Linked DNA regions of Homo sapiens. The gene in region 4 interacts genetically with the main gene of each other region. Each region holds a gene or a part of one and is shown on either strand. Other genes may lie near its edges. The genes, in order: TRAPPC11, IGF1R, HDAC8, TRAPPC12, IGF2BP1, SEC24A and SLC39A9.

What was found.
Region 1: changes in TRAPPC12 (region 4) and TRAPPC11 together harm fitness less than expected from each alone (positive genetic interaction), as found in Homo sapiens cells (one large-scale study listed by BioGRID).
Region 2: changes in TRAPPC12 (region 4) and IGF1R together harm fitness more than expected from each alone (negative genetic interaction), as found in Homo sapiens cells (one large-scale study listed by BioGRID).
Region 3: changes in TRAPPC12 (region 4) and HDAC8 together harm fitness less than expected from each alone (positive genetic interaction), as found in Homo sapiens cells (one large-scale study listed by BioGRID).
Region 5: changes in TRAPPC12 (region 4) and IGF2BP1 together harm fitness more than expected from each alone (negative genetic interaction), as found in Homo sapiens cells (one large-scale study listed by BioGRID).
Region 6: changes in TRAPPC12 (region 4) and SEC24A together harm fitness more than expected from each alone (negative genetic interaction), as found in Homo sapiens cells (one large-scale study listed by BioGRID).
Region 7: changes in TRAPPC12 (region 4) and SLC39A9 together harm fitness more than expected from each alone (negative genetic interaction), as found in Homo sapiens cells (one large-scale study listed by BioGRID).

Annotation. Positions count from the first base shown.
Region 1 is NC_000004.12:183,665,793-183,669,292, reverse strand, and holds part of TRAPPC11 (trafficking protein particle complex subunit 11), read right to left. Parts: intron 3,037-3,500; coding exon 2,867-3,036; intron 2,234-2,866; coding exon 2,163-2,233; intron 1,291-2,162; coding exon 1,176-1,290; intron 1-1,175. UniProt on the Homo sapiens protein: Involved in endoplasmic reticulum to Golgi apparatus trafficking at a very early stage.
Region 2 is NC_000015.10:98,914,039-98,917,538, reverse strand, and holds part of IGF1R (insulin-like growth factor 1 receptor isoform 1 precursor), read right to left. Parts: intron 1,576-3,500; coding exon 1,408-1,575; intron 868-1,407; coding exon 663-867; intron 1-662. UniProt on the Homo sapiens protein: Receptor tyrosine kinase which mediates actions of insulin-like growth factor 1 (IGF1). Binds IGF1 with high affinity and IGF2 and insulin (INS) with a lower affinity. The activated IGF1R is involved in cell growth and survival control.
Region 3 is NC_000023.11:72,489,344-72,492,843, forward strand, and holds part of HDAC8 (histone deacetylase 8), read right to left. Parts: intron 1,664-3,500; coding exon 1,586-1,663; intron 1-1,585. UniProt on the Homo sapiens protein: Histone deacetylase that catalyzes the deacetylation of lysine residues on the N-terminal part of the core histones (H2A, H2B, H3 and H4).
Region 4 is NC_000002.12:3,417,694-3,421,193, forward strand, and holds part of TRAPPC12 (trafficking protein particle complex subunit 12), read left to right. Parts: intron 1-3,500. UniProt on the Homo sapiens protein: Component of the TRAPP complex, which is involved in endoplasmic reticulum to Golgi apparatus trafficking at a very early stage.
Region 5 is NC_000017.11:49,045,885-49,049,384, reverse strand, and holds part of IGF2BP1 (insulin-like growth factor 2 mRNA-binding protein 1), read right to left. Parts: intron 3,496-3,500; coding exon 3,364-3,495; intron 3,126-3,363; coding exon 3,012-3,125; intron 34-3,011; coding exon 1-33. UniProt on the Homo sapiens protein: RNA-binding factor that recruits target transcripts to cytoplasmic protein-RNA complexes (mRNPs). This transcript 'caging' into mRNPs allows mRNA transport and transient storage.
Region 6 is NC_000005.10:134,655,285-134,658,784, forward strand, and holds part of SEC24A (protein transport protein Sec24A), read left to right. Parts: intron 1-3,500. UniProt on the Homo sapiens protein: Component of the coat protein complex II (COPII) which promotes the formation of transport vesicles from the endoplasmic reticulum (ER).
Region 7 is NC_000014.9:69,405,192-69,408,691, reverse strand, and holds part of SLC39A9 (zinc transporter ZIP9), read right to left. Parts: intron 1-3,500. UniProt on the Homo sapiens protein: Transports zinc ions across cell and organelle membranes into the cytoplasm and regulates intracellular zinc homeostasis. Participates in the zinc ions efflux out of the secretory compartments.

The DNA.
Region 1 (3,500 bases), on a different chromosome or scaffold from region 4:
TGCTCATATGTCTGCATTTAAGGAATAAAACTCATTTATTCTTTTCCTCTGAATTCTAAGCAATTATCTCAATGTTACCCTGGGCACCATGGACTTGATTTTCTGTGGTGTGAATTCTACTGTTTACTGCTTCCAGTGTAAAGATTTATTTTGCTAATTGCATTTAAGTTTCTTTGCAATTCATCTTTTCATTTGATCCTATTCCTCTGCATGTTCTCTGCTAAATGTATGCTTCTCTTTCTTAGAAGCCTGGTCTTTTATATACCAGTGAGAAGGCCAGGTAACCTCCTGCAGCGGATCATTTTCAGAGGTTTGCTTCTGAGAAAGAAACAAATGCAAGAGAAGCAATACTCAAAAATAAATAAAACTGTTCATGAGTTAACGAAGGACACTTATGCAGAATGAAAAGGAAAACCATTTTACAGTCAAAATCAATGAAAATATTCATATCTAAATACATCCTAGCATAAAATGTACTACTACAAAACTTCTGTGTGACAATAAATGCTACAAAACAATGAATAATGACCACATGATTTTTGAGGTAATGTTGTGTCTCCAGGTAATCTGCCCTTTATACACAAAGGCTTTATAAAAATATTTAAGATATGATAGGGCTCACACCTTCCTAAGAAATTAGTGACATAGATACATCGACAGCTCAAGAATGAAGCAAAAACAGGCCAGAGTGGAATGGAGACACTCTCACAAAAAAGGACATACATGTCACTCAAGGACATGGGTAATTACTGGAAAGTATAATGGAGAAACATATAAACTTTGTTTCTTTAAATAAAGTTGACCTAGATGCACATATGGAAGCATGTTAATGAGGTAATGTTAAGTGGAAGATCACTGTGTATCATATGAGCACATTTATGTTTTTGTGTTTGTGTGTGTGGTATGGATACTATAAAGAAATACATATATTTGTTCTTATACAAAAAGACTTTTTTTGGAAGGAAACTTGAGCAACTGTTGATACTGGTTACCTCAGGGAATTGGAGAGGGTTAAGAATTTAACAAAAAAGACTTTTATTTTTACCCCATAGCCTCTGTATCATATGAATGTTTTTCATGAACATGATTTTTTAAAAAAATAAATGGGTCTAAGCTACCAATTTCTCAATTCTTAATAATCTAAAAAAACAAAACTTTAAAAGACCTCTACTTACCTTATAATATAACCCACAAGGTGGTCAGTGTGCGGCAGTACAAACAAAGACTTTCCTGAGAGTTCACATGCATTGCATAAAGCTGCAGCCCTTTCTGAAGCAATGACATCTTCTCCTGTTGATAATCCCCATCAAGATGAATGAGAAATAAAATAACTAATGTAGCTTCCCAAATAAATATTTCCCCAAGTCTGAAAAAATAGAATTAGGAATAAAAACCCAAACAGCTTTTCATCACACCAACAGGACTCCTGGGCTCCTTGAGAGCTCTGTGTGGTTCTTAGAGGTTACACAGTATATGCCTTTTAGGAAAACACTGTGGAATTTTCTACTGAGCCAGGATAGGTGGCCAAGTAATGCCAACAGATATACCACATAACTATTTCAAAAAACATAACTAAAACTGGAAGCAATAATTCATGAAAGAAGTCTCCAAAACCATTTTGGATGCTATAAGTTTCAACACAGAAACAAAAATATATTTTGGTCTACAAAAGTCTGGGAAAGTGGAAATAAGAATCTGAAACTAAGACATTTTCCAAGAGAAAACTACAAATCCTATAGCCTTTTTCTTTGCCCTACAGAAAATTAATGAAAAAATTTCATATAAGGAATACAGCTTCAAATAGATCTTAGATAAGTAAATTATATTCTTTTTTGGAAAGCTTTGGAAGTCAAAAAAAATTATACTCTTGTAAAAAAATTCAAGCGAATTGTTTTGTGAATTGAACATGCCTTCCTATATCCCCTACATAAGAAGACAAGTGGAACAGGGGAACTAGGGGAACTTGAGATTTGCATTCTTCACTATCTTTAATTTTTTACAATAAGCATTTGTTCATGTATCATTGGTGCTTTTTAAAGTTAACATACTATCAGCCCCATAACTGAATGCATAAAAGATTTAAACATCCAAAAAACCCCTATCTCCCTTTAATAAGAATTGGAGGTATAAAACAATTAATTCATTAATTAGACTTCTGATACCTGGGGGCAAAGGGGTTTTCTTCTGAATCAGAACCACTGCAACTTTTGTGTTTCTTCCTTGTAAACTTTGCCTGCAATGAAAAAGCAAGAATAAAATTAATTATTTTAACTTAAAAAATGTATTCATGACTTCACATAAAATACAACCTTGGTCATTCAACCGAAGATAAATTTCAACTAAAAAAACCAAGATCAGAAGAAATCTTTTCCTGCACACAAAGCACATATATGTCACAATGATTTAAATTCTAAAAGTATGATCTCACATCTTCTAATCTTAAAAATCTTCCTTAAAAGCAAAAGATTAATGTATACTTTTACGTAAAAGTTATAATGCAACTTACTTCTTTATGGTGATACACTGCAGAGTAGTCATCCAAAAGAATTAATTATTTGAAACTTAAACAGTGATAAAGCAAAGCGTTTTAAGAGACTAAACAGTAAATTACTATGTCTCCAAAAAAGATAATACAAGAAAAACATTTGGAAATTCAGACCAATTAGTCTTCTAAATTTCTTCACGTACCCAGCATTATATACAGTCAATAATTATGCTACCTGTGAGGAAGTGAACAAGATTCACTGGAGGTCAATCCGCAAAGTGACCACTGCAGTCTGAACGGTACTCCATTGCCTTCAAGGAATGTTAGTGAATAACACACATGTGCAAACTGACATAGCTGCCCTGACACAGAAGATCATACCTGACTATTTCCACTCTGGTGGCGCACTCAGACTGCTTTTCTTTCCACTGAGGCTCATCCCAGTCCAGTTCATAGAACACAACCACCAGGGCTGGCACCAGATTCAGATGCTTATTCATCCAGCCAGTCTTTAAGATCCCTTTAGGAATGTACCACTCATATGAAGTTCTCTGCAAACATTGGCAGAAATTGAAAAGTTACCTGACAGGAGCAGAAACCACCTGTTACTGAGTGCCAAGCACTTTATGTGCATTGATCTCATTCAATATACACACCTCCCATTTTTGATTAGGAAACTCAGGCTTACAGATTCAGTAAGAACTAGTAAGTGTTGAAGGTGGAATCTCAACCCTGGAGAAGCTATACTTCCCATTTAAAGAATGACTGAAGCCAAAGAGTTTCTATCAGCCCCATAACTGAATGCATAAAACGATGATGCATGTCTAATGATGTCAAGGGTCTCAAATACTTTGCTAAAGAAAAAAAAAAAAAAAAAAGTAGCCCATTTCCAGGTAAATTCTACTTATATTCTTCACCATTCCAGCTTCTGTTCTTGTAAAACTGCTCAAATAAAATATTATCTAAAATCCAATAGGCTTTGTTTATTTCAAAGACATATTGCTGTGATGCATTT
Region 2 (3,500 bases), on a different chromosome or scaffold from region 4:
GTTTACTTTCCTCTGCTTTTGTCCCCACTCCCCAGAAACCAAGACCACAGCAGAGGAGCAGAGTCCCTGGGGCAGGGGCTGTGTTGCTTTGAAAGACAGAGTAACCACGGAATAAACAGCCAATGCAGGCTGTCGCCCTACACTGCTTCCCAAACTTACTTGTACAGGATGCCTGTGGCACCTGGCTATGTTTTGAAGTCAGGCCCTTTCCAGCACAGACTCTGACTTTTTTCCCTCTTGCTTCACTCCTCCTCTGTGAGGCTGAGAGAGGCAGTAAAGATAATTAGGAAGGGCAGAGATGGACCCAAATCCTGGCCTTTCCTCTCACCAGGCAGCAGCTGTCAATACTCTTTGAGTTTCCCCTCCCTGCCTCTACCACAGGGTGCCCACCTGCTCTCTGTGGGGGGTTGTGGCTGAGACAGCAGTACCTGTCACACCGGTGGCCCCAGCAACCCAAGCCCTGGTCCCTGTTCCCTTCAGGGCTGACTGGCTTCCGCAGGGACTCACTTCACCGAACCTGTCATCTTTTTCGGCTCCGTCTCAGTGGCTACTGTATTGTACCCCCCAGCTGCTGACTTACACACTACCTGGTGGGGAGAAAGGCAACAGAACCGGCCTGAGCAGTGGGTTTTGCCAACTGAAATTTCACATGAGCTGGGTACCTGGGCACGAAGATGGAGTTGTGCAGGAAATTCTCAAAGACTTTGCGGTATTCAGCCTCCTCCTTCTCGGCCTGCTTCTCGGCTTCAGTTTTGGGGCAGGCGCAGCAAGGCCCTTTCTCCCCACCACACACCTCAGTCTTGGGGTTCTCTGTGACCTCCTCAATGTCGATGGTGCCGTCGGCATACTTCCTGATGGGGATTTTGTCTTCTCGGAAAAGAAAAGCCAAAACAAGAGTGGGAATGAAAGCCGTTATACATGCTTGTAAGGAAAAATAATAGCTCTCAGTACCTTTAATCAAGAAGATAGCTGGTCTCGGCCAGATGTGGTGGCTCAAGGCTATAATCCCAGCACTTTGGGAGGCCGAGGCGGGCAAATCACCTGAGGTTAGGAGTTTCAGACCAGCCTGGGCAACATGGTGAAACCCCGTCTCTACTAAAAATACAAAAATTAGCTGGGCATGGTGGTGCATGCCTGTAATCCCAGCTACTCGGAATGCTGGGGAATGAGAAATGCTTGAACCTGGGAGGCAGAAATTGCAGTGAGCCATGATCGTGCCACTGCACTCCAGCCTGGGCAACAGAGTGAGACTCTGTCTCAAAAAAAAAAAAAAAAAACCAGAAGATAGCTGGTTTCCAATGGAGAACTACACTGTTGTCTGATACGTGTAATATTAGGGCTCAGGCACATTACAACCACAGGAATGAACGGTCACACCCTCCGTCCAGGCCGCTGCTGCACCCTTACCTTTGGAGCAGTAATTGTGCCGGTAAAGGTAGCCGTCCTGAGGCTGCCGCTGCCAGCGCACAATGTAGTAACTCAGGTTGCCGTTGGGCAGAGAGGGAGGGTTCCACTTCACGATTAACTGAGAAGAGGAGTTCGATGCTGAAAGAACGTCCAAGGGAATGGAAGGAACTGGAGAGGGGAACAAAGAACATTCTAGAAAATGAAATGAACTTAAGAGTCAGGCTATCAGATACTCTGGCAAGCCAACAGGAAACTGCCAGTTTGACCTGGATAAGAAAATAACAATGAACAATGAAATACAAAGTGAAAAGTGAACCTTATTTTGAAATAGTACTACTATAAATGCCAACATTTCCCTTTATAATCTATTTCCTCCGGTAATCTCTGTGAAAACAAACATTACTGAGTTGTAAATGGAAAAAGGCTGCGGGGGCACAAGCAGGGTTAGAAGAGACAATGTGAAAATCTACAGCTAATTCAAACACCTGGTATTTCTCATTTATTACAACTGCCATTCTCCACAGTGCTGCACTCCGGCAATTTCGACAACTGGTAAAACAGGCTGACTTGGATTTCATCTGAGATTTTGAATCTCTGATAAAAATGTCATGAAGCCAAATGGAAAGAGGAAGTGGAAAGGGGCCTGGAGAGTCTGTGTGTGTGAAGGAGTGTGCATGCCCATGTCACAGCTGTGTGTAAGAGGGATGGGGGAGAGGCAATGCAAAGAACACGGAAGTCCACCATTTCCACAGGCATCCTTCAGTACAATGACTGAGGCATGACTCTGAAAAGCAGTTTAGAACTGCAAACGCATGGAAGCCTCATTTTGAGCAAAGGACTCTGTCACCAGCAGAATGAATGCCGATTATAGGCAAAGCATAGTTATCTGATCAAGCTTTACTTATGCTGACCCCTGAACTGAAACCCAGAGCTGAAGTGTGCATAAAGATCAAATGCATCCCAGAACCACTGAAATCTTGTCCTTATTGGGTCACAAAAAAGCATCAATGTTGATGGTTTTTCAAAGCACAGGAGACACCTTCACTGGATATCACTTAAGCAATATGTTTGCCTAAGCCATTTTTAAAACTTGAAAAGGGCGGACAGCTTGAGGGTGCTCCAGGTTATACGATACACACAAGGTTCTGAACATCTTTAAGGGATGATACTTTGGAAAAAGGTTATGACTAATACTGGCGTTTTCAGAGAAAACACAACCACTTGATGCTCAGCCACTTTAGGGTTTCCAAAAATAAGTACTTCAAAAACAAACAGCTCATTCCTAGATACATTCTTACGATAGGTGTCACCAAACAGCAGAGGCAGAGGACCAAGTTCTCGTCTGTCTCCGCTGCGTGTAAGGACAGAGGACAAAACGTAGTGAACTGACTCATTGGTACAGTGCCTGGTTTCCATCTTTGTGGAAAGGAAACAGGTTTCTTGAGAATCTGTCACAATAAGCAGATATTCCTATGTTTCCCAAACACTACAGTGAATTGCTGGCCAGGGGTTACTTCCAAATTTTAAGATGAAAAACTTCTTCTGTTGCACTGAACCTCTGCTACACCAACCCACACGCAGGATCAGAAGCCTGTGCCAATTTTGTTTCAATAAGCACTTTACCCAGTGACATGACTGTGGCCACTTACAGGGTCATGGAGATGGGGTAGGAGTGGAGGAAGGAGCAGGCGTGCACAGCAAAAGGTTTTCCCCACCAGCATTTTCTTCTCACCCTCCTCTCTGCCATTTAAACTGATTTTGTGCTCGCTTATGGGTATTTAAAAACACCTTACCCACTAAAATAATGGCTATTATCAAAGAATGTTTATCAGTGCTATAGAGTGAATGCCTGTGTCCCCTACCAAAACTCACATGTCAAAATCCTAACCCCTAAGGGGATGGAATTAGGAGGCATGGCCTTTGGGAGGTGATTGGGTCATGGGAGTGAAGCCCTCATGAATGGAATCCAGGCCCTTCTATGAGAGGCCCCGGAGAGTGCTCCCGCATCCCTGCCACCATGCAAGGACACAATGAAAAGACAGCCATCTATGAGCCAGGGAGTGGGCCCTCACCAGACACCAAATCTGCCAGCG
Region 3 (3,500 bases), on a different chromosome or scaffold from region 4:
GGGTGTCTACTAGTATAGTAAGCATAAGTGATCTGTTAACAGTCCATAAAAATCACCTGGAAAAAGAAACAGCTTTAATGTCATTCTTCTTGTTATTGTCACCTGAGGTGACCTGTGTTAAAATTTTGCACAGGACTGAGAAAAACAATCAATGGGGAAAGGATTCCCTATTTAATAAATGGTGCTGGGAAAACTGGCTAGCCATATGTAGAAAGCTGAAACTGGATCCCTTCCTTACACCTTATACAAAAATTAATTCAAGATGGATTAAAGACTTAAACGTTAGACCTAAAACCATAAAAACCCTAGAAGAAAACCTAGGCATCACCATTCAGGACATAGGCATGGGCAAGGACTTCATGTCTAAAACACCAAAAGCAATGGCAACAAAAGCCAAAATTGACAAATGGGATCTAATTAAACTAAAGAGCTTCTGTACAGCAAAAGAAACTACCATCAGAGTGAACAGGCAACCTATAGAATGGGAAAAAATTTTTGCAACCTACTCATCTGACAAAGGGCTAATATCCAGAATCTACAATGAACTCAAACAAATTTACAAGAAAAAAACAAACAACCCCATCAAAAAGTGGGCGAAGGACATGAACAGACTCTTCTCAAAAGAAGACATTTATGCAGCCAAAAAACACATGAAAAAACGCTCACCATCACTGGCCATCAGAGAAATGCAAATCAAAATCACAATGAGACACCATCTCACACCAGTTAGAATGGCGATCATTAAAAAGTCAGGAAACAACAGGTGCTGGAGAGGATGTGGACAAATAGGAACACTTTTACACTGTTGGTGGGACTGTAAACTAGATCAACCCTTGTGGAAGTCAGTGTGGCGATTCCTCAGGGATCTAGAACTAGAAATACCATTTGACCCAGCCATCCCATTACTGGGTATATACCCAAAGGACTATAAATCACGCTGCTATAAAGACACATGCATACGTATGTTTATTGCAGCACTATTCACAATAGCAAAGACTTGGAACCAACCCAAATGTCCAACAATGATAGACTGGATTAAGAAAATGTGGCACATATACACCATGGAATACTATGCAGCCATAAAAAAGGATGAGTTCATGTCCTTTGTAGGGACATGGATGAAATTGGAAATCATCATTCTCAGTAAACTATCGCGAGAACAGAAAACCAAACACCGCATATTCTCACTCATAGGTGGGAATTGAAAAATGAGAACACATGGACACAGGAAGGGGAACATCACACTCTGGGGACTGTTGCGGGGTGGGGGGAGGGGGGAGGGATAGCTTTAGGAGATATACCTAATGCTAAATGACGAGTTAATGGGTGCAGCACACCAGCATGGCACGTGTATACATATGTAACTAACCTGCACATTGTGCACATGTACCCTAAAACTTAAAGTATAATAAAAAAGAAATTTACAAAATTATCTCCTATCTGAATGAAAATGCAAAAAAAAAAATTTTGCATAGGATTGTGGCAGTAAGGCATTAACAGCATGGAACTGTCCAAGTATAAGAAATGTGTAGAAGAATTTCAGTATTTAGTCATCAAATGTAATACTGAGTTTATGATCACTTGCCTGGGAAAAATCCTGGGGAGAATTTGTGCAGGGACACGGTCATGACTTTGGAGGTGAAACTGAATGCGTCTTCTACACCTAACAGATAAAGAAACATCAAAAGAATCACTTCACATATGGCATTCCTATTTTCAACATCTGAAAATCTAGAAAGCAGCTGTGAGAAGGAGGGTAGATGAGAAGGCAGCAATATAAAACTAACAAGCTGAGGAATAAAAGTAATACGAACCTCTGGTCTCTAATCTCGTAATTACAAGATGAGGTAGAACTTTGGCCCCAAGTGAAGTTTGGGGGTTCCTTTTCAAACTCATGGAAAACTATAACTGGACTTCCCCTTTCCAAGCAATGGGATGTCTGGGCTCTCTTTGACAACCTGTTCTAAAAAGTAGGGAAAGGCGAGAGCCTAGAATTGAGGCATTATCAACAGAATTGAATAAGGGAAACTGGAACCATCTTACAAGTTGTATGTTTTGTCTTGTTTAAGTGGTTATAGTTAAAGTCTTGGGATTTTTTCCAAAGACGTACAACGTGATAACCCTTTGAAAAATATGACCAATAGAAACATTAGCCATTATATACCAAAAACCTAATTATAAAGTGCCTTTCTATAATGCAGATTTGGTTATAAATAAGTAACTTATAGTACATCTTTCTGGCTAAAACATGGAAGGCTGAAAACAGCCGTGACCTTGTCTCCTAATAGCAGCCTTATAAGAGTGTTTTAAAATCTGAAGAAAGATGGGCGAGAAAGGGGTCTGTTTTCCATTTTAACTTAGTGAGTAAACGATTAGAGGCCTGGGAGATAAAAGCTGGGATTTAAAGTAACCCTCACAAGCCTCTACGTATACAGGTAAACACACTGCCCACCTCCACCCCTTTCCTCTCAGAATCACATATAGTCACACTATGTTCAGATAATCAATCTGTAAAATGGGAGGACTATTAGCAAATTCAGGTACTGTCCTCTTTCTTACTTCAAACAAAGAAATTGTCTCTGTATTTATTTAATGTTTTCAGTCTTCACTACAGCCCCAACAGCGACTTTAAAAAAATATTAACTCTATTTATATATAACAGGTATGTTTGAATTTCCCAAGCCTTATGTTTGGCCCTAGGGAGGCAGTTAAATCCAGTTAAAGGCTCTAAGCAAAAAGCATGAAGTAAAAAAAATAAAACAAACAAAATAAATGAAAATAGTATTTCAACTTAGAAATGAAGTCTTAAACAAGGATAATTCATGAAAATCCTGATTATTGATCAATCCAGAAATGTTGTACCAATTTACACTTGGACCAATCATGTATGAGAGTTCCCAAACTATTGTTATTCTCTTTAATCTTAGGCAGAAAGAATGGTTTTGCTCTAATTTGCCTTTCTTTGAGTATTAGAGTGTTGAGCACCTTTTCATAAGTTTAGTGGCCATTTGTATTTCTTCTCATGGGAAATACCACTAGGCACAGTTATAAAATCATATTTAAAAAGGAGATGTACACAGATAGGAGGAAGCTATGGACTTGGTGGGAAAGAGGAGAGTAGTTAGGTAGATGAAAGAAGGCAAGGATGGGGTAGGGGTGGCTAGTGAAGCCACCACAGGATGCTAGTTATGTAATCATGGGAGATTTAAAATAAACCAAATGCATAAGTGTTGGGGGGTGGGGCAGGGGTCACTGTAAGGGAGGTGCTGAAGAGGGGAAATAAACTGAAATGAAACACACCATAAAAGTTGGCTAAAACAGGAAACTCTGAAGGGTGTAGAAATAACATTGCAAATGGAAAGAACACTTTCAGGTGACAGTTTCAGTTCATTCTTATGTGGTTCTGTAGAGTTGATTGTATTCTTAAACTCCGATACTAATAGTTTGAATTTCATAATCATTCATTGATCAAATATTTTAATGAGCCACTACTATATGCA
Region 4 (3,500 bases):
GAACTTCTTTGTTCTTCTTTCCACGAGAATTAAAACCTTAAGTTTCTCATTTTTAAAAATGGTCATTGGCCGGGCGTGATGGCTCACGCCTGTAATCTCAGCACTTTGGGAGGCCGAGGCAGGCAGATCACCGGAGGTCAGGAGCTCGAGACCAGCCTGGCCAACATGGCGAAACCCCATCTCTACTAAAAATACAAACTTTAGCCGGGCGTGGTGGCGGGCGCCTGTAGTCCCAGCTACTCAGGAGGTTGAGGCAAGAGAATCACTTGAACCCAGGAGGCGGAGATTGCAGCGAGTCGAGATCGTGCCACCGCACTCCAGCCTGGGCAATAGAGACTCTGTCTCAAAAAAAAAAAAAAAAAAAAACATTGTCATAGTGGCAGGCACAGTGGCTAATGCCTGTAATCCCATAATCCCAGCACTCTGGGAGGCTGAGGTGAGTAGATCACTTCAGCCCAGAAGTTCAAGACAAGCCTGGGCAACATGGGAAAACCATATCTCTACAAATACTCGCCTGCTTCTGCCACTCTGCACCATCAATATAAATAATAACTAATTCACAATAATCAGTCATGAAAGAATAAAATGGAAAACATGCCAAATGCAGGCCCCTGCTTTGTTATCACTGCATGCCATACACATAAAGTTCTCTGTCACGTGACTACAGGAGCATCTCCATTCCTGTGCCTCGTCCTCAGGTATCAGACGCAAGCCACTCGCGGGCTGAAGTCAGCCCACAGTCCTCCTTGAAGTCAACAGAAATGAACTACTGAGCCACGAGGGGCCTAGACCTGGGATCCGCCAGCGTTTTCTGTAAAAGACCATAGAATAAACATTGTAGACTTCCTGGCCATACAGTATCTGTCCAGCTCCTCAGCTCTGCTGTGAATGCCCAGCTCTTCCATGGTAGCACAGAACCTTATCACCGTGCAGGTGCACACGAGGCTGGGCTCTGGGTTCCTGTGAGCTCTGCCTACCAACTCAGGCAGTAGGGGGTGGGGGGCGTCCAAAGGATGTGCACAGATTGCCAGCACCAGGCCCAGCTGCTGGAACATCCTCATAGCTTTACTCACATCTACACGGACGCCTTAAGTTCACCCCATCAGTGCAGGGAGACAGGGGCCTTCAAATGTGATGACACGACACTGCTGTGGCCTGTGCTCTTGGAAGCCTGCAAAGGCCAGCACACCCGACCCTCCTCTGCCTCACCTCCTGTGCCACCCCATCCTCACCTGCTTCCCCAGCCTCTCCTCATCCACACCTGCTCGGCCCCTCCTCCACCGCCTCCCTCCGGCCCGCTGGTCCTTACTGCATCCCCTCGGGCCCTGCACCCTGCCCTCTGCTCCCTGTGCCCCCCATGCCTGCTCTCGCCTTGTTTTGCACACATTCTGTCCTCTTCTAGGGTCTCCGCCCCCTCCCCTTCCCTGATTAACTCCTGCCTGTCCTCACTGTAGGTCATGTCCTGAGGGAAGAGGGCCCCAGCCTTTCTAGCAGGAAAGGCCAGAGCCTTAGGCCTAGGGAACCAGGAAGGGAGCAGTTATTAGTTGCCCCTGGATACAGAATCTGCCTAGATGCATATATAGAACTGGTTCAGACTTGGCACAATCTCTTTCCCTCTCACTCTTTCACATTTGCAATTCAAAGAGAATATACAGAGCCATTTGTATTATATAAAGTGATTATTGCATTGAATTTAGACTAGAGAAGGCATTTGGAGATCGTTTTAGTAAATTATCGTAACCAATCTAAAAATACTTCTGAACTGTCAACCAGAACACAGAAATCCTGTATTACTTGCTGTAGTCTGGACAGTTTAGGGGAACGTGGCACCGATCTCATCTTCACCGTCGATCAGTGGTTCTCTGACTTGGTCCAGTGGCCGCACACCAGCTAGTGAAGAAAACCACAGACTCCAACTGCACTGTGTACGCTCTGGTGTCCTCATTTCCAAAAAAAAAAAAAAAAAATCTACAAGATAGAGTTTAAGAAATCTCATTTGAGTTGCCCTGCTAATATTTGCAGCTCGCTGGTGGGTGCCGTGGAGGCCAGTACTCACCGTCAGGCTGTGGCAGGTACAGTGAAAGGAAAAACTCCATGAGAGAACGGTGGAAAGTTCACCTGAGAGTGAAACGCATGCCAGTTAGAGTGGCTGAAAAATAGCATGGACAACACCAAGTGCCACGGGACGTGCAGCCGTGGGACCCCTCACTGCTAGGGAAGGCAAGATGGCACGGCCACTTAGGAAGACAGCTTGGCGGCCTCCTACAACACTAAACATACTCTTAGGTACAACCCAGCAATCCAGTTACTGCATTACGCTCCTGGATATTTCACCCAGTTATGCCGAATGCTTATATCCACACAAGAATCTGCCCAAAGATGTTGATACCAGCTTTATCCATAGTTGCCAAAAACTAGAGGCAACCAAGGGGTCCTTCGATAGGTCAGTGGGTAAACACACTGGTAATGTGGACAGTAGGATGTTCAGCATTTAAAAAAAAAACAACTATCAACCCCTCAGAAGACCTGGAGGAAACTGAGATGCCTGCAGCCCAGGGACGGCTGGTGGCTTGCAGCAGGTCACACGGCTACTCAGGCGTAGAGCCTGGCCTGTCTGAAGCTCAAGGCCCAGCACCCGTTCCTTTCCTTACACATAGAGTTTCACTAGGCACGCACACGCTGACTCTGGATTGATGAAGAAACAGTTTGGGAATTTTTAACAGCATCGTTCACATTTTTAATGCCTGCCTCCTGCCTGGCACTGTGCTCAGCACTTTCATGTATCTTCTTTAATTGTCACATCTGTGAGGTGGGACAGATGACCTCAGCTCTGTAAACTCAGCCATTGCTGAGCCTGCAGTGTGAGTGTGAGGCCACATGTCAGAACCCCGGAAGACACAAGCCCCACTCTCCTGCCTTCAACACAGCCCCCCACACCGCCGCTGTGGCTGGAATTGGAGCAGGTCGTTAGCTCCTGCCTGAGGAAGCCCAAATAAAGGACTGCAGAACAACTGTAGTGCAAAGCTGAGACTCATTGCCCTCCTAGGCGTTTCATGAGCAGGTCCTGAGTTCTCTGTGTCCCGGCGTGGAGTGCAGGAGGCGTGGAAAGGGAGTAGTGCGTGTGTGAGTTAGTATACAGAAGAAGTGTGTGGCAGGCTCTACCACACGTTTTTAAAATATGTAAACTCCTAAACTTCTTGTCAGAGAAGCGCTTGGCATGCACACAAAATCATTTAGCTAATTCTTGAGAAACATATTGTTTAATTGTCTGTCTCCCTTGCTAGATCATACCACTAATGAGTGCTCGTTCACTAACCTCCCCGCCAGCCTTGCAGTCTCTGTCAGGCAGGAGGTACTTAAAGCATGTTTATTGACTGGCTGCAGAAATGAGGACATCTACCGTATTCAAAGATAGTGCCCGTTACATTGAGAAAAGACAGAGTGAGCATCCACTTTTAGCTTCTTAAAAGGTTTAAACATTCTGATCTTATTTTCCCATT
Region 5 (3,500 bases), on a different chromosome or scaffold from region 4:
GGCCAGGATGTCTCGGATCTTCCGTTGAGCCATCTGCAGCAAGAACAGGCAAGAGAGTGGGTGTGAGACCTCCAAGGAGACAGCCTTCCACGGAAGAGAGGTCATCAGGTCCAGACACAGGCAATAAACAGAACAGGTCACACAGGACTCAGAAGAAAGATAAAGAGGAAGAATGAGGGTTGGGGTGACCTTACATTTCTTTGCCTCCAGTGGAGCCTGAGTATCCCCTGGAAAATACAGCAAACGTGGTGGGTGTTAAGTGGGAGATGGGGTTGGGGGACTTGAAGGAAGGAGAAACAGTAGTATCAATCCATTCATCAGAATTTAAAACTTGACAAAGTTGATAAACATTACCAAACGCAAAACAGAATGCCTAGAGTTTCTAGGCAGAAATATATTACATATTGCAGAGCAGTGGTCCCCAACTGTTCTGGCACCAGGAACTGGTTTCATGGAAAACAATTTTTCTTCCACGGATGGAGGTGGGGGTGGGGAAGTGGTTTCAGGATGAAACCTCAAATCAGCATGCAGTAGATTCTCATAAGGAGTGTGCAACCTAGATCCTTCACATGCACTGCGCATCCCTCGAGCACTTCACAACAGGGTTAGCCCTCCCATGAGAATCTAATGCCGCCCTGATCTGACAGGAAGCGGGGCTCAGGAGGTAATGCCCACTCGTCTGCCGCTCACCTCCTGCTGTGTGGCCCGGTACCAGTCCGTGGCCCGGGGTTTGGGGACTCCTGTTGTAGAGGGTCGTAACTTAGAAGACATCATCACAAATCCACGCTTCATTTTAATACCCCAGGAAAAGGAATAATATGTCTAGATATGGCCAGGTGCACGGTGGCTCATGCCTGTAATCCTAGCGCTTTGGGGAGCTGAGGCGGGTGAATCACCTGAGGTCAGGAGTTCGAGAGCAGACTGGCCAACACGGTGAAACCCCATCTTTATTAAAAATACAAAAATTAGCCGAGCGTGGTGACGTGCGCCTGTAATCCCAGCTACTTGAGTGGCTGAGGCAGGAGAATCACTAGAACAGGGGAGGCGGAAGTTGCAGTGAACTAAGATTGTGCCACTGCACTCCACCCTGGACAACACAGCGAGACTCCATCTCAAAAAAAAAAAAAAGTAAAAATAAAAAATAAAGTCCAGATATGGGTTAGTCAAAAAGCATAAATACATAAGCTTCACTGTAAAAATGGACAAAATACCCAATCTTTTATTATTTCCTTCTTAAAAGGTTCTTCCCTAAGAATAAAGTTTTATAAAGGAAATAAACTGCAAAATGGGATTCACTTCATAGAATGAAGACCAGAATGTCTCCTTTCCATAAATGAGTGCTTCCTTTCCTGGTTAAAGAAGCAGCTGAGGCTGGGCATTGTGGCTCATGCCTGTAATCCCAGCACTTTGGGAGGCTGAAGCAGTGACATCACTTGAGCCTAGGAGTTTGAAACCAGCCTGGGCCACATGGTGAAACCTCATCACTACAAAAAAATACAAAAATTAGCTGAGCGTGGTGGTACCTGCCTGTAGTCCCAGCTACTTGGGGGGCCTGAGGTGGGAGGATCACTTGAGCCTGGGAGGTAGAGGCTGCAGTGAGCTGTGGTCACACCACTGCCCTCCAGCCTGGATGGCAGAGCGAGACCCTGTCACAAAAAAAAAAAAAAAAAGAGGAAGTTGATCTAGGTTGGGAAAATAATGTGTAAGTCAATAAGAGGTCCAACTCCATCAACCCTGGCTTGATGTTTTACATAGCTTTTCATTTAATTCTCATTCTGATCAGCTAAAATTGCTTCAGTGTTTAATATTAATATATCCTGGCTTTATGCATCTTTGGAGGTATCCTTTACTCTCTTTAAAAAAAAAACGCTGAATTAAAGATTCACATTTACCCTCTTAAGCTTCATTTATAAAATGAAATTGTTGTGGGAATTAAATGAGTTAATATACATAAGCCACATAAAACAGTGCTGGGTATACAAAGGCATCGATAAATCTTAGATATTATTATTATTATGGCTCTTATTAATACTTTTTTGTTATTTTATATATATATATAGTTGAGATGTAACTAAAGCCTCTTGTTAATACTTCTCAAAGGGTTATCAGAGAAAGTTACTTATCCAAGGTCACATAGCAGAAAGGCTATGTATGTGAAGTTTGAGGTCAAAGCTCCCTGGATCCAAAACCTTCATACTTGATGCTATACTATATGGGCACTGGAAGCCAAAAAACCAAGAGCCAGTTTGCCCCAATTGCTCTAGCAGCCCCAGCAGACCACAAGCCTGCTAAGATCTGGATATCTTCTATGAATTGTAGGAACTGTGATCAACAGTCTCCAAAGTTCCTTTCCAGTTCTAACAATGATGGATTTAAGACTTTAGGAAAACACCATTAGCTGCCAACCACCTGTTTGCTTGCCTTGCTGAGGTTCAGCAAAATTTGAACCTGATATTGGCCTTCCCTTCCATGCTCTGGAGCCTGTCCGAGTGCTGAACGGCAATGATGAGTTCTGGGAAAGGAATGGGAGGGTGGAAGAGCAGAAACCAGGGAGAGAACAGCCATTCTGCGAAAGGCAGAGGGACTACATTTCAAAAATGCCATCAATCCAGGGTGTTAGTACTGTTATCATTATTCCATGAACAAAACTAATCTTCTTTCTTAACCAGTGCAGAAAGGGGTTAGGGAGGGACTAACGTAGAACATATATATATATATTTACATATAATATATATTCATATATATGTTATTTATATATATAATGTTATACACAATATATGTACATTAAACTTGTCAAATCACTTTTCCTAGAGAGTAATAAGAGGTAATATGTCATCTACACATCCCACTTCTGCACCTGAAAGAGGGCAATAACCTAGCCTAGAGGCAGGCAGATGTGGCTGAGGCCCCAGGACTTGTCAACGTCATGAAGGTCAACCTCTATAGAGTCTCTGCTTCTCTGCTCCCTGGGCTCCTGCAGCCCTCCCTCAATGGGGGAGCACCATATGTACCTGACTGGCATAGAAATGTCCGATGATTTTCACGATGACCTGGTCGTTCTCATCAGGGGTCTGGTCTCTTGGTACTACCACCTCAGCTGCCGTCAAATTCTGCAACTCGTTCACCTGGGGGTGGCCAGAGAGGAGCTCAGGGTGCCATCAAGAAAGCATGGGTGGGGTTGGAGGGAGGAGCCAGGGTGACTAGTGGGGAGAACCTGGAAGAGTCAGGACCTGAGCTTGGGGAGTAGAATCAAGTAAATGAGCAAATCAGGAGTCCTGAGGTTGAGCAGTACAGGAGACCAGAGAGAGCTGCTGAGATTGGAGACCAAGGCCCAGGGCTTTCAACCTGGCCCTCACAGCTCACCGTTTTTCCACCTTTGCCAATGACCCGGCCAGCTGCTGATGCTGGCACACGTATGTGGGTCTCCAGCTTCACTTCCTCCTTGGGACCAAAGAAGTTCTCCTCCTTGAGTTTGCCATAGATTCTTCCCTGAGCCTGAG
Region 6 (3,500 bases), on a different chromosome or scaffold from region 4:
TCATCTGCATTCATTCTTGCCTCTAACTTTCTAATTTAGCTTCTTTACCCACACATCCCAAAATTGTCCTTAATAAGGCCACAAGGCTGGGCGTGGTGGCTCATGCCTGTAATCCCAGCACTTTGGGAGGTCAAGGCGGGTGGATCACAAGGTCCGGAGTTCAAGACCAGCCTGGCCAACATGGTGAAACCTTGTCTCTACTAAAAATACAAAAATTAGCCGGGTGTGGTGGCGTGCGCCTGTAATCCCAGCTACTCAGGAGGCCTCAGCCTCCTGAGTGATTCTCAGCAGGAGAATCACTTGAACCCGAGAGGTGGAGGTTGCAGTGAGCCGAGATCATGACATTGCACTGCAGCCTGGGCGACAGAGCAAGAATTCATCTCAAAATAAATAAATAAATAAATAAGGCCACAAATGGCTTCCTGGTTATTAAATAGAAAAATATTTTTCAGTTCTCATTTTCCGAGCTGCATTTGATACCTTTGGCTGTTATTTTGTTTTTACAACAATTGCTTTCTTTGGTTTCTAGGATATCACCAGAAGGGTAGTTATGGTTTTCTTTCTTTTTTTTGGTTGCTATTTCTCAACAGCAGTATTCTCAATATTTCTTCCATTTCTGATTGTTTTTTTCTCTCTCCTCCTTAAATATTGGTGTTCTTCAAGGTGACCTATTTTTCTTACTCTTATATACTCCCTGGGTGTCTTTAATTCCCATGGTTTTAAATCTTATGCATAGATCAGTGACTCCCATAATTATATCTTAAGGTGAAATCTGTCACTTTGGCTGCAGCTAAATATCTTTTTTTTTTTTTTTTTAAGACAGAGTCTTGCTCTGTTGCCCAGGCTGGAGTGAGGTGGCACGATCTTGGCTCACTGCAACCTTTGCCTCCTGGGTTCAAGCGATTCTCCTTTCTCAGCCTCCGGAGTAGCTGGGACCACCGGCATGTGCCACCACACCCGGCAAATTTTTTGTATTTTTAGAAGAGATGGGGTTTCACCGTCTTAGGATGGTGTTGCTCTCCTGACCTCATGATCTGCCCGCCTTGACCTCCCAAAGTGCTGGGATTACAGGCCTGAGCCACCGCGCCCAGCGCAGATAAATATCTTTATACTGGACATCTCCACTTAGATTTCTTGGTGGCACCTGAAAATTAGTGTGTTTAAAATAACTCTTCGATCTCTCTTCCCTTTGCCATTCCCCACCTTTGTTTTTTTGAGACAGAGTCTTGCTCTGTCAACCAGGCTGGAGTGCAGTGGCACGATATCCGCTCATTGCAACCTCCGCCTCCCAGGTTCAAGCAATTCTCCTGCCTCAGCCTCTGAGTAGCTGGGACTATAGGCGTGTGCCACCATGCCCGGCTAATTTTTGTATTTTAGTAGAGACGGGGTTTCACCGTGTTGGTCAGGCTGGTCTCGAACTTCTGACTTCAGGTGATCCACCCACCTCGGCCTCCCAAAGTGTTGGGATTACAGGCATGAGCCACTGCATCCGACTTTTTTTTTTTTTTTTTTTTTAAAGACAGCTCTCATTCTGTCGCCCTGGCCGGAATGCAATGATGCAATGATAGCTCACTGCAGCCTTGAACTCCTGGGCTCAAGTAATCCTTGATCCTTGATCAAGTGGGTGGAGTGGCTCATGCTTGTAATCTTAGTACTTTGGGAGGTCGAGTCAAGAAGATCCCTTGAGCCCAGGAGTTCGAGACCAGCCTGGACAACTTAGGGAGACCCCATCTCTACAAAAAAATTTAAAAATTAGCCAGGCATAATGGTGCACGCCTGTAGGCCCAGCTACTCAAGAGGGGAGGTGGGAGGATCGCTTGAGCTTGGGAGGTCGAGGCTGCGGTGAGCTGTGACACTTCAGCCTGGGTGGCAGAGCGAGACCTCATTTCTGAAAAACGCACACACACACACACACACACACACACACACAACCAAAACTTATATTTTGTAGAGATAGGGACTTGCTATTGCCCAGGCTGGTCTCAAACTCCTGGCCTCAAGTGATCCTCCCACCTTGACTTTCTAAAGTGCTGGGATTGCAGGCATGAGCCACCGTGCCTGGCCTACATTTCTATTCTTTTCTCTTTCTGTTCAAATGAATAAACACGGCCATCCACCAGGTTGCTCAGGTCAGAAACCTAGGAGTCATCCTAGATTTTTTCCTCTCTTCATCACCCATATTCAATTCCACATAAAATCCCATGAATGCTGTTTCCTCAAATCAGTTTTTAAAAATTTGAGTAATGTATAGATACTAAATATTTCTCTGCTGTCCCAATGTTAAATTATTTATTTATTTATTTTACTTCTGACACAGGTTCTCACTCTGTTGCCCAGGCTAGAGTGCAGGGGCATGATCACAGCCCACTGCAGGCTTGATCTCTTGGGTTCAAGTGATCCTCCCGCCTCAGCCTCCCAAGTAGCTGGGAATATAGGCACGTGCCACCACAACTGGCTAATTATTTATTTTTTTGTAGAGACGAGGTCTCACTATATTACCCAGGTTATTCTTGAACTCCTGAGGTCAAGCCGTGCTCCCACCTTGGCTTTTCAAAGTGCTCGGATTACAAGATCAAGCCAACATGCCTGGCAAAAATTATTTTTATTAAATGTGTATATGCAAACACAAAACTAGATGTAAACTTCATAGGGTTATAGCTATTGTACTATTGTAAAACCAAACATTAAAAATATCAACATATGGCTGGGCATGGTGGCTCACGCCTGTAATCCCAGCACTTTGGGAGGCTGAGGTGGCCAGATCACTTGAGGTCAGAAGTTCAAGAACAGCCTGGCCAACATGGTGAAATCCCGTCTCTACTAAAAATACAAAATTAGCCAGCGTGGTGGTGCACACCTGTAATCCTAGCTACTCGAGAGGCTGAATGAGGCAGGAGAATCGCCTGAACCCAGGAGGCGGAGGTTGCAGTGAGCCGAGATCGCACCACTGCACTTTAGCTTGGGCAACAGAGCGAGACTCTGTCTCAAAAAAAAATCAAAAGCAATATAATTCAATTTTAAAACATTAAACAATATGCTACATTTTGTTTGAAACCACAGTTGATTTGATTGTTTTAATTTTGAATATGTTGGAACATTACTTGGGTGACTATCATGCTCACTTTTTCCTTTTTGTTTTTGAGACACGTTCTCACTCTGTAGCCCAGGGTGGAATGCCTAATTATAGCTCACTGAAGTCAAACTCCTGGGCTCAAGCAGTCCTCTTGCCTCAGCCTCCTGAGAAGCTAGATCTACAGGCATGTGCCACAACTCCTGGCTAATTTTTTAATTTTTAATTTTTTTGTGTGGAAATGGAGTCTCGCTGTGTTGCCCAGGCTGGTCTCCTACTCCTGAGCTCAAGTAGTTCTGCTTTGGCCTCCCAGTGTGATGGGATTACAGGCATGAGCCACCATGCCCAACCTCTACACGATTTTAATAGGGGAAGAATGGGGTGGGGGAGAGGACATTTACTGGAAAACAGACGACTTATAGGAAGGATA
Region 7 (3,500 bases), on a different chromosome or scaffold from region 4:
TGGGTTGTTTGGCCCACGCACTGATACAATATTTGAATAAGTAGCCAAAGGATAAAATTCAGGAGACTTCATATAAAAATCCAGATTTCTAGCTTTGGAAAAATAGGAAGATTTGGTGTCATCAAATGATATGTGCCCTTTAGATGCCCACAGTTCTCACTTCTCCCTAATGACTCCCAGGCACTGACACTGAAGGTCAGCTGCCATATATCATGACACTGGGGCTGTCTTATTTTACTCCAGGCTTAATTCTCTGTTCAGCCTTATTTGATTTTATGATCCATTACCTACCTCTATCAGTCAGGGTCCTTTCATCAAAGAGAAAGCATAAAGTAATTTGAAGAGAGAAAGTTTAACATAAAGAATACCTACAAAAGGGGGCTGGGCATGGTGGCTCATACCTGTAATCCCAGCACTTCCGGAGGCCAAGGCGGGCTGATCAACTGAGGTCAGGAGTTTGAGAACAGCCTGGCCAACATGGCAAAACCCTGTCTCTACCAAAAATACAAAAATTAGCCGGGCGTGTTGGTAGGCAGCCGTAATCTCAGCTACTTGGGAGGCTGAGGCAGGAGAATCACTTGAACCCAAAGAGAGAGGTTGTGGTGAGCCAAGATCATACCACTGCACTCCTGCCTGGGCAACAGAGCAAGACTCCATCTCAAAATAAGAAAGAAAGAAAAAAGGAATACCTATAAAAGCATAAAAGGGGACTAGAATGATGAGGAATTGACTAAGAGAGAACCGTAAAGAATATAATAGCAGGGCCGGGTGCGGTGGCTCATGCCTGTAATCCCAGCACTTTGGGAGGCCGGATTCACCTGAGGTCGGGAGTTCAAGACTAGCCTGACCAACACGGAAAAACCCTGTCTCTACTAAAACTACAAAACTAGCCAGGCATGGTGGCAGGCGCCTGTAATCCCAGCTACTTGGGAGGCTGAGGCAGGAAAATCTCTTGAACCTGAGAGGAGGAGGTTGCAGTGAGCCGAGATCGTGCCATTGCACTCCAGCCTGGGCAACAACAGCAAAATTCTGTCTCAAAATAAAAAAAAAAAGAAAGAAAATTGGCCGGGCGCAGTGGCTCACGCCTGTAATCCCAGCACTTTGGGAGGCCTAGGCGGGCAGACCACCTGAGGTAAGGAGTTTGAGACCAACATGGAGAAACCCTGTCTCTAACTAAAAATACAAAATTAGTGGGGCGTGGTGGTGCATGCCTGTAATCCCAGCTACTTGGGAGGCTGAGGCAGGAGAATCACTTGAACCTGGGAGGCGGAGGTTATGGTGAGTCAAGATCATGCCATTGCAGTCCAGCCTGGGCAACAAGAGTGAAATTTGGAAGGAAGGAAAGAAGAAAGGAAGGAAGAAAGGAAGGAAGGAAGGAAGGAAGGAAGGGAAGGAAGGGAAGGAAGGAAAGGAAAGAAAGGAAGGAAGGAAATTAACGTCAGATAAATACAGGGTTTGCAATAGATAGTTTGATGTAATTATCTATTAGTTACCCTCAAGACCTTTTCATTTAAAAATGAATTTCCATGTAAGAATTTCCAGGGCTGGGTGTGGTGGCTCATGCCTGTAATCCCAGAACTTTGGGAGGCCGAGGCAGGCAGATCTCAAGGCCAGGAGATCCAGATCATCCTGGCTAACATGGTGAAACCTTGTCTCTACTAAAAATACAAAAAATTAGCTGGTTATGGTGGCACGCACCTGTAATCCCATCTACTGGGGGGGCTGAGGCAGGAGAATTGCTTGAACCTGGGAAGGGGAGGTTGCAGTGAGCTGAGATCACGCCACTGCACTCCAGCCTGGGCGACAGAGCAAGACTCCATCTCAAAAAAAAAAAAAAAAAAAACAAAGAATTTCCAGTCTAACTAATATTTATTTCCATTTTATTTCAATAAGTTAAAAACTGAATATTAGTATTCAAGGAAGACTGAGATTTCTGTAATTTCATTATAGGTTTTAAGAAATACCAGTACTCATACTTAGTACTACTACTTTTTTTTTTTTTTTTTAAGACAGTCTCGCTCTGTTGCCCAGGCTGGAGTGCCATGGTACAATCTCAGCTCACTGCAATCTCCGACTCCAAGGTTCAAGCAATTCTCCTGCCTCAGCCTCCCGAGTAGCTGGGATTACAGGCGTGAGCCACTGCGCTCAGCCCAGTGTGGAATTCCATACTGAGCTGAAGGGGATCTTATCATTCAACAAAAGTCTCATCATTAAATTCTTTAATTAGAGGAGAGGTTAAGACTATCATATACAGAAACATTCTGAATCCATTTCATGTCATCTTCTCTTGAAAAGGATGTCACTTCTTGAACAGCACAATTTACGACTAACCTGTGAGGATGTCAAGTGTGAAATTCATCTTGGATAGTTCACAATAGGAACTACTTCAGATTCCAAATTGGCAGGTGTTAATTTAAAAGGCATCTAAGACATATTAACTTATTTCTTATAGGTTTCAATGGTATTTGGAGACTGTTTACCTCTGGAGTTTCAAGTTCTACTCCACTGACTAGGCAGAAAGCATGAGATATACTGTGGAAGGTATGAAAGATGTTCCTAATTTGGGGAGCTAAAGGCATCAATTTAGGTAGATCCTATTTTCATTCCTTCTTTACACAGCATTCATTAGGAAAGGCAACATTTAGTAGTCAAGTGACTGATTTGGCAACAGGAATCAAAATGACTTAGTTCCAAATCACACCTCTACCAGAGTCTGTGACCTCTTCAAGCCTGAGTTTGCTCATTTGTAAAGTGAGGTTTAACAGTATCTCATAGTCTTGGTCCTGAGGATTAATAAGATAGTGCATATCATTGCCTGGTATACAGAAAGAGCTCAATAAACATTATTAATATTATTATGCAGATAAGTCTTAATTATGTTTATCAATATAGTATCCTGGAGAAAACAAAGTTTTTCAGGAAAATAATATTGAATCATATTGCAACCGGATTTTATTTGATCCAAACTTAGTTTTATCAAGGATCCTTATGAAACAATAATCTGTAGTTCAATCTGAGAAAAGACAAGCTGATGATTTCTTTCCAGATATGGATAAATTTACTGAGATTGCAAAGTTTAAAATTTTATAATTTACGTTCATTCATCTGAGACAGGGTCTCACTTGTTGCCCAGGTTGGTCTCAAACTCCTGGCCTCAAGCAAACTTCCAGCTTCAGCCTCCTAAAGCACTGGGATTACAGGTATAAGCCACCATGCCCGGCTCAAATCTTAGAATTTACAAATGAAATTCCAAACAGGTATAAAATCTCTTGTATTACCATAAGAGGGTAAGAGCAATGTACCAGACAATATAAAAGTCCTTAAAAATGTAACATTGTTAAATCTACTTCAAAGAGAACCTATTGTAGAGGCAGAAGCATACTGAATAAATCTGTTCTTCAGACACAATAAACCTTTGATTTGCGGGTAACTCAAACCCCTAAAGATACTTATTATGAATGAGTCAGTTATTATAATCAGACACTGATATGGTTTGGTTG